2 separate regions of the Homo sapiens genome follow, and region 2 is linked to region 1. Evidence: fine-mapped expression QTL. A gene starts in region 1. The other region holds a variant in brackets. All regions are shown on one strand. Distances are between the middles of the regions.

Region 1 (9,776 bases):
GGCTATAACCAGGAAGCAGGGTTTATCTTAAAGATAGCTTTAAGTCATGCCTAAAAATTAAAGCCATGGCAGGCCTGAGGACAGTCCACAGGCAGGCCTCATTTTATTTTTATTTTTTCCTTAGATCCAGGGACAGACTGGATAGACCTAATTTTAAATACAAGTTTTATAGAGACCTTAAATAGCAAAGAACCAGGTAGGAAGAGAATAAATTAAAATGAGACTAAAGATAAGTATAGGAAAAGGAAATGTTGAAAGCTTGAAAAAACAATTTGGAAAATATATTTGCAGATTCATGTACTTTATAAACCTATTTATAGAGTACTAGTAATATGTTTTATTATTTTTGTCTCTAAATCTTTCCTATATATTAGTAAAAGAGAATTGTACCCAAAAGTATAAATGGCAAAATCCTACATCACTAAATACTTATCTTTAAAAATAAAAAAGCCTATTTGACTTCACAAGATTTTATAAAACAAAAAAGCAGATTTTAAAATATTCTACTAGTTATAAAAATCTGGAAATAAAAAAAGGATACAGCATCCATAGCTATGAGATGAAACCTTCTATTTCTTGCTTCTTCCCTGTTAAAACAAATTTTTTTAAGAAAATTCAAAATGTTTATATTCAAATTAACATAATCAAATCCCCTAATCCGAAGCAACTTAAACCAAGAAATAGAATTGACACTGAAATACCATACCTATCCAGCAATTCTGCTGCAACTTGTTTATGGGCCACCTTTCCATGTTTTTCTTTCTGAAATGGTTTTTGGAGCAGTAAGTCATCTTCAACTGTCCTGATATATTAAGAAGAAAATAAGAGTTCACTTTTTTCAAAGGTTATTTTCTAATTCTTTATATTTTCATAACTGGAATATACTTTAAAGAATGTAAGTCTTAACTTTAAGAAGACTCACTGATCTTTAATGAGATATTTTACATTTCCTTAAATAGCTTAATTAATACCTTAACATTATTTTAATACCTATAACACGGGGAAGATGAAACTAACAAAAGCATGGACTCTAGTGTCATATCACCTAGCTTCCTGATTCAAATCCTAATTCTGTCAATTACTACCTTAATCTTAATAAGATTCAATTATTTATCTCTTTGTTTCTTCATTTCTCTATCTGTAACATAGTGATAAGGAAGTTTTTGGTAATTAATGATACACAAAAAGCAAGGCTGATTATAGAGAACACAAACCACAGATCCAGCTCGCCCAACCCATGGGCCTCATGTGGCCCAGGATGGCTTTGAATGTGGCCCAACACAAATTTGTAAACTTTCTTAAAACATTAAGACACTTTTTCACATTTTTTTAAACCTCATTGGCTATCATTAGTGTATTTTACGCAGGCCCAGCACTGCTTCAGGCCAACAATGTGAACCAACAGATTCACAATTGTGTGTGCTCCACTGTAGTACGTGGCCCAAGACAATTCTTCTTCCGATGTGGCCCAGGAAAGCCAAAAGACTGGACACCCTGCCATAGACTGTCAGCCCTAGTTATAGTGATGAATATAATCCTGGAGCAGAGTATCCAACTAGATTTGCTCAAATTCTATTCTTACAAAGTAGTATTTTTGAATGAAAAATCTAGAAAATGTAAAGCATCAAAAATGTAATTTATTATAATTAGTACTATCCTTTATTGCAGAGACTGAGTATCCTATAAAAATGTTCAGAACCTGTTAGTATGCCTAATATATTGCTCTCAGTGTGAAATAATAAGCCAATTTCTATACATTTGCTTAAAAAAATCAGTCAACAGCCGTGTAAGTTTGGTTAGTATACATCAGTCAACCACTCCTGAGTCAAAGTATAAAACTGAGTTTCTATGCACTGAAAGCTAAGAACAATGCTCCTACGCACAGCAGCTCCACCAAGACGTATCCTGCTTATAACGCACAGGCTTTATGTGCTAAGAGTTTTTGTCTCTTGCAATTCAAAAAAACCTTCCTTGAGTTTCTTCCCGTGACCTTAGTCTGCTCATTCACGTATGCGTAAGAACTGTGCTGCATTATACTTTCATCCTCCATATTAACTTCACTTTGAAGGCAAGTAATGGCAAGAGACCACCATTCAAGCCCCTTCTGAGCTACAACATTTACAAATAAACAGTCCTTGACAGTTGAATGAAAAATATATGTAATGAAAAGGTTTCACTGATTTCTGAAAAGATTCCAGAAATCTGAAACTCTTCTTTCCCTTTCAATAAACCCCTTTGCAGAATTAATTTTTATTTTTCCCACAATTGTTCTCCAATTTTTAATCAATGTATTAGCTTAATGAACAAAAATTCATTCACTAGAGCAATTGTCTTCACATGTAAACAGAATTCAAAAATTTCACTCTTGTTTATTTATACTTCATATTAATCTAGAAAGGATGTGAAAAATAGATCAATAAAAAAAAATTACTTACCTTTTTTTCCTTTTGCTGGATTCTCCACAGCGTTCATCATCACTAAAATCAGAATCATAGCCTCCATGACCATGCATCTGTAAAGGAGTACAAAGTCAGCTATTTAGAATCTATGTTGCCAATTGTCCAGGAAACAATAATTCAAAAATAAGTTATCTTAAACAGCCACAATAGTTTTAAAGGATCATTGTGGGCAGATTCCTATTCACAGGCCATCTAGCCATCTAAAACTTTCATTCGCTTTTAAATAAGAGACATACCTTTCAGGAAATGCATCAACATTTTTCACCCTTAATTATCATTAGGTGAACAAAGAAGGCTACTCTTTGATCTTTTCACTGAAAAACCAGGCCTAAAAGCTGCAGTGACTGCTTACAAGGTTTAGCAATCCTTCACTTTTGATTCAGAGTAGTAATAATCACTGTGTGTTTATCACCAACTTTGTTCTAGACATTGTGTTAAATACTTTACAAACAACACTTCTAATTCTGCAAGTTAGAAAGTTATCTTCATTTAGGAATGAAGTAATCAAAGTTAAGTAAATCTATTTACAAATCCAGTAAGTGGCTAATCTGCTGTACTTGATTCCTGCGCCCACAATTTCAATTACTCCAAATTTCCTCTCTGGAATATGATTTACTATATTCCAGGAGAATTACAGTATTTGTGAACAGTACATCATCAATTGATGAAAATTTTCCTGTAATCTTTTTCAATATATGTAGAGATTTCCATTTTCTTTTGAGTTTCTTTAAGGTAAACCACCTTGCCCTTTGGATTAGTCAGCTTTCTCTTGTTTCATTTTATTTATCCAGTTATTTTTGGAGAGTCTCGCTCTATTGCTCAGGCTGGAGTGCTGTGGCGCCTTGATGGCTCACATCCTCAACCTCCTGGGCTCAATCAATCCTCCCACCTCAGCCTCTCCAAGTAGCTGAGACTACAGGAGTGCATAATCACACCTGGCAAACTTAAAAAAATTTTTTTTTTGTAGATAAGGGGTTTCGCCATGTTGCCCACGCCGGTCTCAAACTCCTGGGCTTGAGCAATCCGTCCACCTCAGCATCCCAAAATGCTGGGACTTCATTTTAGAACTGAAATTCTTAGAAATGCTGGAAGACCTCAGTTGCCACTCAATTGTATTGGAAGAAGCTCCTAGTTCCAGCTTTGCACTGAATTTGGAACACACACTAAGAAGGAAGGATGGACTATTTGATGTCATACATAACTAATTTACATGGCTGGAAGGAACAGTCCAGGTTAAATGATATATCAAATTGTTAAAACTAATATAACGACAGCAAGTGCAGCTGGAAAAAGAGGAAAGAACTCTCTAAACTTCATTGCATTGGATCTAGGGTAAACGACATGTTTCTAGTCCTGGCTACCTTGAATAAGTCATTTCATCTCCCTGGACTTCATCTATTAAATAAGATAGCTACATGAAATAATCTTTAAGTTGTTTAAATCTTTAAATAACCTTTAAAGTCTGTAATTCCATTTTCAAACATAGGTGTGTGGGTATATACCTCTCTTCTCTGCCCCACTAAAATCCTAGATAGGAAGATGCTAGTTAAGGTTGGAGATGAAGGTTTGAAAGCCCGAGTTCCAACTCTACCCTCCCTTACATCTGTTATTGCCTTACACACCTGGATTTTACACCCTTTTTTAGGTCAACTCCAGCTGTCTTACCACATCTGTTCAAGCCATATTGTCCTCTCACTCTTTGTCCTATGTCCTCACGTTCTTTACATCTTGATGGGGGACAGCTGTAGTGTGTTTAGAGATATATTCTAGGATCAGCCTACTAGATTTCACTGCTTGGCTCTGCACTTTCCATTTGTCTTTCTTTGGGCCTGTTCCTTAACCTCTCCAAGCCTCAGTGTCCTCATTTATAAAAAGAGGCTAGTAAGATGGCTGACCTCATACGAATGGAGATTAAAAGAGTTGCCTCATCTAAAGGGTTTTAACGGTGTCTTGTACAGTGAAACCCAGTAAATGTTACATCATCATCATCATCTTTTCCCTCGCCCCAGGACACGACTTCCTATTCTTGCTCCCACTCTCCCATTTCTTTATTCGCTGGCCGCTCCATCCGACCCATACCTATCTTAACTCACTGGTTGAACTAAAAAGCTCTCACTCACTTCAGGCCTACGAATCAACTGACAAGAGCGGGGAGAAACTCAAAAACGGAGATGCCAGGTGTCTCCAGAATCTGTCATCCAAAAAAAAAAAAACCAAACCAAAACAAAAAAAAACCCGACGATCAGCTAGTACTATATGAAAAACAAGTTTTGAGGTCCTTCTCCCTGATGCCAAATATACCCACAGCCCTCCTCACACACCCTTTCCCTTCCTCCCTGTGTGCCAAGTTCGCCCCCGGAGTCGTCGTTTCCTTCTTTCCCGGCAGCTGCAGCGACGACCCACGGCCTGAGAGAGCCGCTGCAGCACAGGTCCCGTGCGCCCTGCCGCACAGCCTCGCCACAACCACCACCGCCGCCGCCGCCGCCGCCGCCGCCCGCAACCCGCCTCTCCCTACGGGTCCCGACTGGGCACCACTTCCGGTCCGACACGGCCACGTGTTACATCTAAATGGCACCGTCCCCCGAGTGCGCCGACCTTGTGCTACAGCCAGAACAGCTCCGGGAAACAAGGGCAGCGGGAGAAACGGCCCGGAAAGGGACGAAGAGGCTTCCAGCTTTCGCCAAGTCGCGGCTCCCAGTTTTTCCCTGGGCCTCCTTCCTTTCCCCTCTAGGGAATCCGGCATCTAGTACCGCTGGCACTGCTTGCTGCTTAGCCCACGCCTCTCATTTGAAAATATATTTTGTTTTACCGTGCCTATCACCTGCCGTCCTCTCTCTAGTAACCTTAGTAACGCCTCCTCGGAGGATCCTCTCAGAGCAGCTCATCAGCGCTTCAGATCAGCCTCTCCCTCCTTCCCCCAGTAAAACAGTTCTCATAATTAGAACAAAAATATCTCTCCATCGTTTCGCCACCCACACAATAGATACCATTCCAAAAGCAGTGCTGATGGCAGAAGAGCTCATCGAATTTGTGAGGAAAGAAAGAATAGGAGGAGAGATTTCTCAGGGTTGAGGATTCTCTGCCGACAAGCGACCTGGCACATGCGAAAAGGGATCCAAAATAGAATCTTAAAAAGAAGAAGAAAAAAGGCAGGAAAAGTTGGATTATTTTAAGCGCCACTAGGTTCTTCCTGTGCTTTGCGTTTTCTACATCACGACGCCCCACTCTTTCCACTCTAGTTGTTTGGTTCATGTCTTGTCTCTCGCTGGCATTAGCAGCTATTCATTTTTTGCTTCCTCCTCAGTACCCAAAACGGTGCCTTGGAAATCACAAGTGCTAATTAAATATTTGTTGAATTGAACTGGCACGCTTCTGGCGTTTACAGTGGGCCCTTTTTAGAGAAAACCTTGGCACTTAATGCACAGTCATTTTACATCTTTTGCCCTAAACAGTAGATAACGATATCCTTATCAGTTCAAGTCTCTAACCCTGACAATAAATTATAGATACATTCTGCTTTATCCATTGCACTGAATGTGATCTTAAAAGGCTATAAGATAAATTAAATTATTGTAAATTAACTTATTCCAAAATGCAATCAGATTATACTTCAATAAAAACTTTTACTAAAAAAAGTGAAAGCAATAGGAAGCCTTACAATTTGACGTTATAGTATATGGAATTATTTTGTCAAGCAGTTTCTTTTTTGGTAAATATATTAAATATATAATTATTTTATTGTTAATAAAACTAAACAGACCTATACCTCATATCCAATTTCCTTTCTATCCATATTTGACATTTATTAGCATTTTTCTACCATCCCTAGCATCTTCTTGTTTGTTGCTTCATTTTACTCTTCCAACAACCCTGTGCTGCTGTGTTATTAGCCTCATTTTACACATAAGGAAGAGAGGCACAGAACCTAAAGCCACAAACCTGGTGAGGGTCGAGAACTGGGTAGTACTTGTGTCTGTCTCTCTATAAGACCCAGTTTCTCTCTCTCTCTTTCTCTCTTTTCTCTCTCTCTCTCTGTCTCTCTCTCCCCCACTTCATGGATTGTGTGGGAAGTAGCTTCTGGTTCCAACATTTCTAAGAATTTCAGATCTGTTGCTACCAGTCCATTCAGGCAAAGATTTCCATTTTTTACTTTGAGACAGCAGTTACTGAAAAAGAGTAAATAGAAAATATATATTAGGCATAGATTGCATGATCTGAACTAGAAATAATACAGGATAGAAAACCCACCTGCTTAGGAAATCTCAAGTTAACAATTATAGCTCAACAACAATAAAAAACACAAACATTTATTCAGTGCCTACTCTGGGCAGGACACTGCCCTAGACATCAGGGTTACAGGTATGTAACAGCAACTCCTTATCCTTGAAGGTTGACTAGTAAGACAGACAATGTGTGGAATAACTACAACAATATATTCTATCATATACCAAGTGTCTAGTACATGCATGAACCTGTTGTTCCTAATTTATAAAATATGTTATTTCAATGGATATGAAAATTTAAATGTGCACCAATGCTATGTAACTCAAAGCAACAAAATACTATATTAAGTATGTGGTCAGGATGAGGGAAGTTGGGTGATGATGGTGGTGATAATACCAAGTAATAATTCTGATATAAACTATGACTGTGCATTCTTTTTTATTCAAGACCGAGTCTCACTCTGTCACCCAGGCTGGAGTGTAGTGGCGTGATCTCAGCTCACTCCAACCCCTGCCTCCTGGGTTCGAGCAATTCTCCTGTCTCAGCCTCCCGAGTAGCTGGGACTAGAGGCGCACACTACGCCCGGCTAATTTTTGTATTTTTTTACTAGAGATGGGGTTTCACCATGTTGGTCAGGCTGGTCTCGAACTCCTGACCTCAGGTGATCCACCCACCTTGGTCTCCCAAAGTGCTGGACTTACAGGCGTAAGCCACCGCGCCCAACAAATGTGCATTCTTTCTTTTCTTTTCTTTTTTTTTTTTTTGAGACAGGGTCTCACTTCATCACCCAGGCTGAAGTATAGTGGTGCCATCTCAGCTCAACCTCCACCTCCCGGGTTCAAGCCATTCTCCTGCTTCAGCCTTCCCAGTAGCTGGGACTACAGGTGTGAGCCACCATGCCTGGCTAATTTTTGTATTTTTAGTAGAGGCAGGGTTTCACCATGTTGGCCAGGCTGGTCTCGAACTCCTGACCTCAAGTGATCCCGCCTTGGCCTCCTAAAGTGCTGGGATTACAGGGGTGAGCCACTGCGCCTGGCTGAATATGCATTCTTCTAATACTGTGTGTCTTTGAGAAGATTGCATTTTCCATGTTCTTTTTATAATATGATGCTGACACTTCTCTAACATAAGCTAATACCTATGGCCACAGCTTTGAATCTGGGCATGTCAGTGACTATAGCAGAAGTAATGCTAAGACACTTCTGATGCTAAGTTGCAAAAGGTGTTAGAGCTTCTGCCTGGGTTTGTCACTCTACTTCTTTAGCTGACATGGAGTGGAGCAGAGATGAAGTAACTTCACTGAGCCTCACCCAGATTGCAGACTAATAATCAGAATAAGTATAATTGTTTCAAGCCACTAAGACTTTGAGGTTGTTTGTTATATACCGATAAATATCCAGAACCATCTGCTGTCTCACTTAACCTCCATAACATTTGATGTTATGGAGCCACGCTGGGCTTTCTTTGTTTCTTCAACATGCATGCCTCTTCAAATTTACCATTTCCTCTACCCGGAATGGTCTTAAACCCTTTCTGTTTGCCTCCCTAACTCCTCTTTATCCTTCAAAACTCAACTTAGGTGAAGGAAAGGCCTTTCATGAGCATCTCTCCCACAGACTAGATAGGATTACTGATAATATGCACATTACTTTCCATTGCACTTAGCTACATACGTAGTAATAATTTAGCCCTGTTTCCCTCACTGAGATGCAAGCTCCACAATGGCAGGAAGCATACCTCTCTTTTTCAGTGTGGAATCCCCAGTGCTCAGCACAGTGCCAGACACATGATAGTTGCTCAGAATATTTATTGAACAAATGAAGTGGGTACTATTATTATCCCTATTTTACAATAAGAAAACAGATTTTTTTAAAAAAATTATATAACACTTCCAGAGTCATGAGTAAGCAAATGGGGCACAAATATAAGTGACTTCAAAGCTCACACCATATATATGTGTGTGTGTGTGTGATATGGTTTGGCTCTGTGTCCCCAGCCAAATCTTATGTTGAATTGTAATCCCCAATGTTAGAGGTGGGGCCTAATGGGAGGTGATTGGATCATGGGGGTGGTTTCTAATGGTTTACCACCATCTCCCTAGTGCTGTCTTGTGATAGAATTTTCAAGAAATCTGGTTGTTTAAAAGTGTGTAACACCTCCCTCTTTGCTCTCTTTCTCCTACTCCTGCCATGTAAGACATGTCTGCTTCCTCTTCACCTTCCACTACGATTGTAAATTTCCTGAAGCCTCCCCAGCCGTGCTTCTTGTGCAGCCTGTAGAACTGCGAGTGAATTAAACCTCTTTTCTTTACAAATTACCCAGTCCCAGGTAGTTCTTTATAGCAATGTGAGTACTAATACTAAATATATACATATATATATACACACACACATATATGTATATATAGAGAGAGATAAGTAGAGAGAGAGTGTTATCTCTCTGTTGCCCAGGCTAGAGTGCAGTGGCACAGTCATGGCTCACTGCAGCCTCAACTCCCAGGCTCAAGCAATCTTCCCACCTCAGCCTGCTTAGTAGCTGGTCCATAGGCTGCTGCCACCACACCTGGCTATTTGAAAAAAGATTTTTGTAGATACAGGGTCTCACTATGTTTCTCAGGCTGGTCTCACACTACTGAGCTCAAGCTATACTCCCACCTCGGCCTTCCAAAGTGCTGGGATTACAGGTGTGAGCCACAGCACCTAGCCCAAAGCTCACGCTATTGACCACCATACATATTGCCTTTCAATAAGGCCCATGGTGGTTTGTGATACTTAAAAGAATTAGAAACTTTTTTTATGGAGGAAAGGTACCACATACATTGAGACAGAGGGATTAGTAAGAGGCAGGAAAGGCTTTGTAGAGGAAGTGGGACTTAAGCTATGACTTAAAGGTAGCTCTTGAGAGGAGAGGAGAGGAGAGGAGAGGAGAGGAGAGGAGGGGGCAGTCAAGGCAAGGGAGTTTCGGTAAAGGATTAGAGGTGGAAATATCCACAGGTTATTTAGAGGAATTTGAGTAGCTCACTTGAGCTGGAGAAGAATTTTTGAAAAGGATTAGTGAAAGAAAGATCAGAAAGAGAGATTAGAGCTAGATTTG
Region 2 (9,776 bases), 26 kb after region 1:
GGAGACATGTAGGTCAAAGGGTATAAACTTGCTGTTAGGTAGGAGGAATAAGTCTAGAGATCTAAAGGACTGCATGAGGACTAGAGTTTAATAATATTGTTTTGTATGCTAAAAATTTGTTAATATAGATTTTAGAAGCTTCTGCCACAAATACACACAAAAAGGTAACCATGCAAGGTGGTGGATGTGTAAATTTGCCTGACTGCAGTAATCATTTCACTAGCTCTATGTATATCAAAACACCATGTTGTATACTTTAAATATATGTAATCATAATAAATAAATAAGTAAATAAACAAAAGAGATGAGTTGTACCAGGTAACAAGGACTCATAATAAATCACTGCCTAGGGAAGCACCATGGTGAAGGGAGTGTTTGAGGAAGGACAATGATGTGTAAACTGGACAGGAACAGTCTGAAGACTGGATATTGTTAGAGCATCAGCAGCAGCCTATGGACATGTGGTTAATTAGAGCCTGGACCAGGTTGCTGGCTGTGAAATTAGACAGGAAAGAACCACAGAGAAAAATGACATTCCTCACTGTCACATCACACTCTCTCCCATTTCCTTTTCAGGTTCTTTAGAACTTCTTTCATTTACCTTAAAGGCTTATTTGCAGACACAGCTCAGCACAAACTCTAACTAGCCTGTAAATCATATATATATATATTTTGGCTAGGCCATGCTTCTACATTCTTAAAAGCCAATGCTACAGTGGGAATGAAAAGGAATCAGACCCAGTATAAATTGTGAATGGCTCTGAACTTAAGGCTTTCTACAAATGATGAAGTATTTAAATAGGAAGTTAAGAAAACCGAGAGGCCCAAGAGTGTCTCATCCAGTAGTACCATTCTTTCTTCCCTACACCTCCTGGCACCTTGGATACTCCCTCAAGCCTTCAGTTTCCTTTGCTCCCTATGGGAAAGCCACTGGATTCATTCAGGACAAGATGCGAGGCATCACACTCAGACTATGAAGACTGAAAGGAAACTTGGAGTAACCCAGCCTAAGCACTCAGGAACCCAGAAACACAAATGGCTGAAGGTGAAAACAAGACTGTAACCCACATTTCCCAATGCCCTCTGGGAGCACGATTTTTCTCCTTTCCTTTTCCTGAAATGCAATCTGAAACAAAATTCTAAAATAAAAATATTTTTTTCTGCTCAAAACTGTGCACATGCGTATTCTCTCTCTCTCTCTCTCTCTAGAATAGAGTCAATAGGAGATAAAACCTTCAGAATTCAAATGTCACCTTAAATACAGTGATTAAATAGCATTCTCTAAGCAGAATTACTTTAAAAGGGAGAAAGATGAAACATTTTTATTTTCTTTATGTTAGATCTGCCATCAAAAGTAATTGATAGACGTGTGCTGTTTTTTTTTTAGCATATCATTGTTACTTCCCTCAAAACTGTTATGTTACTGCTTGTACTCATTTTATTCTCCTTTCAGGACTAAATCTGCTGAAAGAAAAAGACTACATCTTGTTTATCTTTGCATTCCTCATGGGTCCTTGTATTGTTTTTTGCACATTGTTCTATATAAGGTTTTGGCACAGCGCTTACTCTTCTTAAAAATTGGTGGAATAACAGGGCATGAAATGACTTTCATCCAATATTTTTGCAACTTTTACCTTCACTACTTAAAAGAAAAAAGTCAAATAGCAAAATGAATATGCCATGTCAATTGGAGAATTTAACAATCTGTGTTTTAAAAGAAAACAGCTTAGGAAGCTCTGGTCTCAGACATGCTATTCTGAAATCAAAATCACATAGATGAGGCTGAAGAGTTGAATCGTCTTCTGAATCAAATTAAAAATTCAACCCATAGTAATTTTGGCAGAATGAAAACGTCAAATTGCATTTCAGCCAATTTCTCTTCCTTTTCTATAGTCGATGAGTTGTTTTGGGGCACAAGAAAAAATTTCAAGGATTGTGTTTATTTACAATATTTTCAGGAAAAAAAATGCCTGCTTGCTTTCCTGTAAAAGTGAGAGGAGCAGAGAAGCTTCCTAGACTGTTCTCAGATGCTTCAGCTAAAAAGTAAAATAACAGTGCCAATAATTGAAAATAAGGAGAAAAATTATGCCAAACACTTGGCACCAGCTGCAGCAATTAAGTAAGCACCTGCTTTATGCTTCATCTGCCACCATCCCCTCCCTCTTCATTTAGGCTGGTTTCTGGTTTTTTTGAGAATATATGCACCTCAGTGTACAAGCTCGCAGAGCTGTCTTTTTCCTTCTTTTTATTTCATTCCTTTCCCTTTGGCTATCATTAACTCAGGCATGACAGGAAGATCCAGACAAGGACAAGGTAGTAAAGACACCAATATTTCTAAAATCTAGGGCTTTAGAGAATGTTGGGGCAGATGTAACCATAGTAATCACTGGTATGAGAGCACTGATGTCCTTACTAAACAGCAGGTCACACCATCCCAAGGAGACCTTGCAAATGAAGATGCAGATTAGATGTCTGGAAGCAAGATTTTTATTAGCTTAGTCCTGAACCTTAGCTATGCAACAAAAGCCAGCTCTGCAGAGATTTAGGCTCTCAAAGAGACACCATCAAGGAGTTCGAGACTGTTAGGAGCATAGGGCTTAGCATGAGCATCAAATAAGGTATAAAAGAGGTGCTTTGAAAAGTTGAAAGAATTATGCAAATGTAAGGCAGGTATTAATATTAAAGATGTTTATCATAACCCATCTAAGAGAAACAAAATCATAAGTGTATTCATCCACTGGAAATGAATTTGCACTTTTTGGAATCCTGGGCTACCATTTCCTCTTTTCCCTTTTATCCTGTCTATAAAAGCTGGCTAATGATGCACCTACCTCAGAGGCAACTGTGAGGCTTAAATGAGATTATGTGCATGAAGCACCTTGCTCCATGCCTTGTATAGAAAAGATACTTAATAAATGTGAATTGCATTTCAAGGGGAAAATCAAGTACATTATCCTGAGAATTCTTCATACTTGCAGTTCATCAATAGATGCTTCACATTAAATTACATGTTTCCAGGAGAGAAAAATGGAGTGGTCACCCTCAACAGTACACAATCAGTGGAGCTGGCTGCTTCTCACATGGAGAAAACAGATGTGAAACAAAGGCATCCATCCTTCAATTTGTAGGTGTCAAAGTAGCAATTCCCCTCTTCTCATACTGGTAACTACTGCTTTGTTCTTCTGCAGAAAACATTTTAAAGCTGCTTTTGAATTCCCTCTATCATAGCCAGATACCAGCAAAAGAGAGACTCTGAAAACAGAGCAAGAGCTTCTAGGTACAGACCAGAAGCTCCTTGAGGTTAGGGACCATTCTACCTGGTTCCCTGCCACACTCCAGCACTTTCAAGAGTGCCCAGCAGATGACAAGCCCTTAGTATGCACTTACTGAATCATTTCAGTACATCAGAAATTTGAGGAAGTAAATGAGACACAAAATTAAAGGTGCTTTATTTCATCAATTTGATTGGCATGTCCTGCTTCATCTACCTTTGGTGCAAAATAATGTCTCATTTGTTTTAGTGCTTGATGTGGTTTGGATGTGTCCCCACCAAAATCTCATCTTGAATTGTAGCTCCCAAAATTTCCAGGTGTTGTGGAAGGGACCCTGTGGGAGACAATTAAATCATGGGGGCGATTTCCCCCATACTGTTCTCATGGTAGTGAATAAGTGCCACAAGATCTGACGGTTTTGTAAGGGGAAACCCCTTTCACTTGGCTCTCATTCTGTGTCTTGCCTGCTGCCATGTAAGACGTGCCTTTTGCCTTCCACCATGATTGTGAGGGCTCCCTAGACATGTGGAACTATGAGTCCATTAAACCTCTTTTTCTTTATAAATTACCCAGTCTCGGGTATGTCTTTATCAGTAGCGTGAAAACAGACTAATATGGTGCTCAAACCATAATAACTGAAGTTCATCTTATTGATCAGGGGAACCTATCCTACTCCTATAGGGTACTTTTCCCATGAAGTACCCTGATAGAAGTACCAGGAGCAGATAGTCCAAAGTGATTAACTTATTCATTGTTAATTAGTTAATATTACCTCATAGAAGAAACCAGAAAGTCTGGTGAGTCCACCAAAGGGCTCTGTTGTCTGCTGTTTGTGTTGCTTTACATCAGTGCAAAAACCATAAAGTTCAGTTATCTAGAATGAGACCCTATTTGTTTTAATATTACTACAGTATCAAGACAGATAACTATTGACAGTCCTAAAAGATTCTTAGAGATTTTTAGGTGATAAATGGTCTCTCTCTCTCTCTGTGTGTGTGTGTCTATCTCTGTCTCTCCCTCCCTCTCTCTTTTTCTCTCTTGCTCCAGGACTGTGCCCACCCTTGGAACAACTGCACTAATCAGGTCTGAGCTTCTGATGTCACAGCACCTGTGGGGTGCCGACCTTCCAGTTTACACACACAGAGCCACTTTGTGCCTAAGGTACATCTATAGTGCCTAGGTGGCTGGATCAACAGATGCAGCATCCACACCCTGAAATTTTCCTAGAACCCTTTTCTTGACTCCACTCTCCGCTGGAGAACCTAGAAACCCTTAGCTTTAGTTTAAGGTGGTAACATTTGAGGAGTTTGGGAAGGGGAAGAGATGAGCATACTAGGAAAGCAAACAGTGTGACCAAAGGCAGAGTAGCAGGAAACTCAGGGTCAGCCACAAGAAACCTTCACTTGTCTGGACACAGAATCCATGCAGGGTGGGGAGCTGGGAGACGTAGAAAGGCAGGGCTATTTACAGATTTTATATTGAGGGCCAAGTGGTGTACAGAGGAGTCAAGATTTAAAGCGGCAATCATTCTTTCCTCACAACGTGTACAAAATGCTTTGAAAGTTCCCCTTTCTACCACATTTTAGACTTGGTGCAGAGAACTAGAACCCACTGTCACCACTTCAGTGTTCTGCAGAGTGGCGGTGGCCCTAGGGTGCCCTACTGAGCTACAGTGGCACATAGGAGTAGACAGTCTTCCAAATCATTAGGGCAGCATCTCCCAGGCTGGCCTATTGCATAACAAGGAAGAATTCTATGATAGGAACAAGCTGAAAGTGTTATAGGAGTGATATGGTTTTGATCTGTGTCCCCACCAAATCTCATGTCATATTGTAATCCCCATTGTTGGAGGTGGTGCCTGATGGGAGGTGATTGGATCATGGTGGCAGAATTCTCATGAATGGGTTAGCAGCATCTCCTCGGTCCTGTTCTTGTGATAGCAGGTGAGTGAGTTATCATGAGATCTGGTTGTTTAAAAGCATGTAGCACCTCTCTCTTCTCTTTCTTGGTCCTGTTCCTGCCATGTTAGAAGCCTGCTCCCACTTTGCATTCTGCCATGAGTAAAAGCTCCATGAGGCCTTCCCTGAAGCAGATGCTGCCATGCTTCTTGTATAGCCTTCAGAACTGTGAGCCAATTTAACCTCTTTTCTTTATAAATTACCCAGTGTCAGGTTTTTCTTTATAGCAGTGTGAGAAATGACTAATACAAGGGGGCCTTGAAAATACACTCAAGATAGTCTATGACAATCAGAGAACTGATAGTGATCATATCATGAGAATTGACTTCCCAAAATCCTATCTATGTTGATTGATAAGGAGTATGTTCATTCACTGATCTGGCCAAGGAGAATGTGACTGGCCACGATTGGCTTAGACTGATCTTGTCATTGGATTTCAACCCTGGCCATAAAATAGAACCACCTGAGTAGCTAAAGAAAATTGCCGACATCTAGGTCCACACCAGTGATTCTAGACTCATTGGGGCTGAGGGAACAATGAGTACAAAGGCC[G/A]GGAGTCAAGAGAACATGGTGAGTTTATGTGGATATTGATAGTTCTACATGGCCTGAACACAGCGTAGGGAAATAAATTCATCACCTTAGGCCTCAGGTGACACACTGGGACTACCACTGCTCTGTGAGACAAGGAAGTGGTGGGATAAGATCTAATGCTTTGCACCTAAGTCTAAAATGTGGTAGGTTCCCCTGTAGCCATATCAAAGTAGGTGCTGTTAAACAAGGGAATCTTAAATAAATCTTTGAGAGAGTCTGCAGTGGTTAAGGGTGCATGCTTGCGTGCAGCAAAAGATGAGCTCAGTTCTATCATCTAACACCTGGGGAGCAAGCCAGGGGACCAGACCTGAACCTTTGCGGGGAATCAAGTACTTAAAGAGGTATCACCTTTAGATTACCTTGTCCTCACCCTGTTCCCACTATTGTCTTTCCATCGTAGTGTTGAAAACTATAATGTCTACATATTTCACTGTAATGTCCACAAATTCAAAAAAAAAATGCCCAGGTTTGTAGAACGTGCTCCGTAAATGTGACAGTTTCTGCTCTACTTGCAAAGCTCAATAACTTGTAGTCAGGTTCTTGGGCTCTTCCAAGAACTTACCATGCCAAAAACCTATCCTGATTCTACCATTTACTTGCTATGTGCTATTGGGCAAGTTGCTTTACCTGTCTAAAACTCAGCTTCATCTGTAATATGGGGGTAATGATAAGTACTTAGGTCAGAGACTATGTGTTCCTCACACTTTCTTTTTCCTCCTGGTCATAGTCGTTGTGCACTTTTCCCAACCTTTCTTGCAGCTAGGCAGGCCATGTGATTGCATTCTATCCAATGGAATGTTGGCAGGAGTGATGCATGCTATATCCAGGCCTAGATCTTAAGAACCCTCCCATGGGGTCCCTGCCATGTGAACTTGCTCCCTCTACCCTCATCTGCCAGTGAGATGCAGAAGATCCAGTGAAGAACTTCAAGGTCCTGGGGAGGGTGAGTTTATTCAGGAAGGAACCTGAATCCCTCCCCCGCCTTCTGCCCATACTGTGCCATGGGTAAAAATCAGCCTTTAAAATATCAAGCCACTGAGATTTGAGGGTGTTTGTTATGGCTGTTAGCCTCACCTGACTAATTCAGCAATTCTGAGAATCAAACGAGAACATTTATTTATAATCACGGTGTCAGGCACAGAGTAAATATTTAGTAAGTAACAGCTATTTATCATCATATGATGTCAGCCCTGCTTTAGGTATGTAGACTTTTCCCTTCCCATATCTTCAAATGCTATTTCTTCCCTTTGATCCAGTGACCAAGACAACTCTGGATGTCCAGTGCTGCTTTATCTTTAAGCCTAATCACAACATTAATGCATTGCTTCTCTCTGGACCTTGCTTTTCTAGTAACGTTTCCTCGCAAAAATATGGAGGGTAGAGGGGATGTTTCTATCGAGATGATAATGGTTCTGAAATGAGTCAGAAGCATGAGGCATTTCAACTGGCATCATTCATCACAGCTCCATTTTTGCTTCCCCTGCCTTTCTGTATGAAGTCTACAGAGCTGAGAGTTAAATTAGTTTGAGAGCTGCCTCGGATGAGCAGCACAATCTGCTCCACTGTAGCGAACATTTCATAAAAACTGTTCCTGCCGAATTTTCATGAAACTTCCAAATTTTAATTAGAAACTGGAGAACCAGATGGGTGGCAAAAGGAATTTAAGGTAACAAGGGAGTAAGTGCTCTTACACTAAGGTAAAAATCAATAACCGTGTGACCAAGTGGGCACTTAATTGGCATGATTTGGAAAGTTCTAGCGGTTCTCCCTGTGGCCCTCAAACATCTCCATTACATGACAACAATGCCTAAAATTGTTAATAAAAACCCTTCACAATCACATGTTATTTTACAGTTGAGCCTTGAACAATGCAGGGGTTGGGGTGCTAACCCCTTGCAGAGTCAAAAATCTGTGCATAACTTTTTGTCTTCCCAAAAACTCAATTACTAATAGCCTACTGTTGACCAGAAGACTTATCAATGACATAGTTGATTAGCACATATTTTGTATATTTTCTATATATTGTATTCTTACAATAAAGTGAGCTAGAGAAAAAATGCTATTAAAGAAATCATCAGGAAGAGAAAGTATATTTACTACTCATTAAACGGAAGTAGATTATCATAAAGATCTTCACCCTCATCATCTTCATGTTGAGTAGGCTTAGGAGGAAGAGGAAGAAGAGGGGTTGGTCTTGCTGTCTCATGGGTGGCAGAGGCAGAAAAGATGGAGAAGGTGGAAGAGAAGGTGGAATAACCAGGTACACTCAGTGTAACTTTACAGCAATACATTATAATTTCTATTTGATTTTTGCTTTTTCATTTCTCTAAAAATTTTCTATATGGTACTGATCCTTCTTTCACCATTTGATTTAGTTTCAGTGTCTATATCTTAGTAGGGTCCATGTTAGAAAAAAAGTCAAAAGCAGTCATGAATGATCAGAACCACTCTGCTAGATTGTCTAATGTCAATTTGCTTTCTGGAACTGCTTTCCATACATCGTCTTCATCACCTGGCACTGGTTTGAAATCACTCATCTCCATCAAGTTGTCTTCTGCTGTCTTTGGTGAGGTGTTTGTTAGCTCTTAAATTTCTCCAGGATCATCTTGAAAACCTTCAACTTCCCTCCATTTTTTTTTTTTTTTTTTTTTTGCCATATCCACAATCTCATCTGCACTGAAAACTTGTTCAGGTAGATATTCTTTCTCCTCAATGATTTTTTTTTTTTTTTTTGAGATAGAGTCTTTCTGTGTCACCCAGGCTAGAGTGCCATGGCACGAGTTGGCTCACTGCAACCTCCGCCTCCTGGTTCGAGTGATTTTTTTGCCTCATCTTCTCAAGTAGCTGGGATTACAGGCACACACCACCATGCCTGGCTAATTTTTTTGTGTGTGCGTATTTTCAGTACAGTTGGGGTTTCACCATGTTGGGCAGGCTGGTCTCGAATTCCTGGCCTCATGTGATCTGCCTACATTGGCCTCCCAAAGTGCTGGAATTATAGGTGTGAGCCACTGCACTTAGCCCTCAATGATTTTCTTAACAGTGTCCAGGAATTTATCTGCTGCCTCTTGGTTGGTAAGGGCTGCTTATTCTCTTATATTGACATTTTTAAAGGCAAATCTCTTTCTAAAATTATCAAACCATACTTCGCTGGCATTAAATGCTCCAGCTTTAGTTCCTTCACCTTCCTTATGCTTTGTTATGTAAGGACTTTGTTTTTTCACTAATCATATTAGAGTCTATGGGTATGCCTTTCTTATAGCAGTCCTGCATCCACGTAAAAGCTGTATTTTCAATACAAGATTAAAGGGTATTTCAGCTTTTGATTCCAAAATGGTAATGTAGAAACAAGCTTGCTTCACTCTCCCCAACAGAAAACCAAAAACAAATATACAGCTCTGAGATCATAACCAGAAATATCCCAGAGCCAAAATATCAACATGAGAGAGTTTCTGGGGCCACAGCGAAGTTAAAAAAATAAAAATAAATAAACTTTAAGCAGATGGTAATATACTCAGACTTCCACATCTGCAGTACCCCTCCTTCCATTCTTCCCAGCACAAAACAGAAAGATATCCCCCTCAAAAAAGTGAAATTGAGGTGGACAACCAGTTTCTCCAACATTTTGGTTTCCCTGTCAGGAGACCTCTCCTTGCCTTAACCTATGGGAAGCATCATGAGCACCTGAAGGGAGAAATATTCCCGAGAACAGGCAGAGACAAAGAGGGGAGTTAAGACTGCCATTTACAGCCCTGGAAACTATGCTGTTTCACTCAGCCAAAGGAGGCACCAAAACAGAGCAGCTTTTCTGCATTGCCACATTGTAGGGGATTCATCCTACAAGTCCCCTGGGCACAAACCTCTAGACAGCCTTCCCAAATTACCAGTGCATCCCCTTTGGGACCTCCCCTATTTGGAAAGGACAGTGCTATAATCGTTTACTGGAGCCAAAGTG

The links.
Region 2: its variant is fine-mapped to the expression of FRA10AC1 in hippocampus (GTEx, PIP above 0.99). The same link has a PIP of 0.9 or more in prefrontal cortex and tibial nerve.

What each region holds. Positions count from the first base shown.
Region 1 is chr10:93,697,595-93,707,370 of GRCh38, forward strand. FRA10AC1 (FRA10A associated CGG repeat 1) reads right to left here and starts at 4,998. Exons shown (of 14, transcript NM_145246.5): 1 at 4,781-4,998; 2 at 2,436-2,512; 3 at 707-802; 4 at 542-587. The coding sequence starts at 2,512. RefSeq lists an enhancer at 4,987-5,286.
Region 2 is chr10:93,723,780-93,733,555 of GRCh38, forward strand. No RefSeq gene overlaps it. Among named protein-coding and RNA genes, the nearest start is that of FRA10AC1, 26 kb to the left of the region's middle. The variant G/A (reference allele first, on the strand shown) is at 5,783.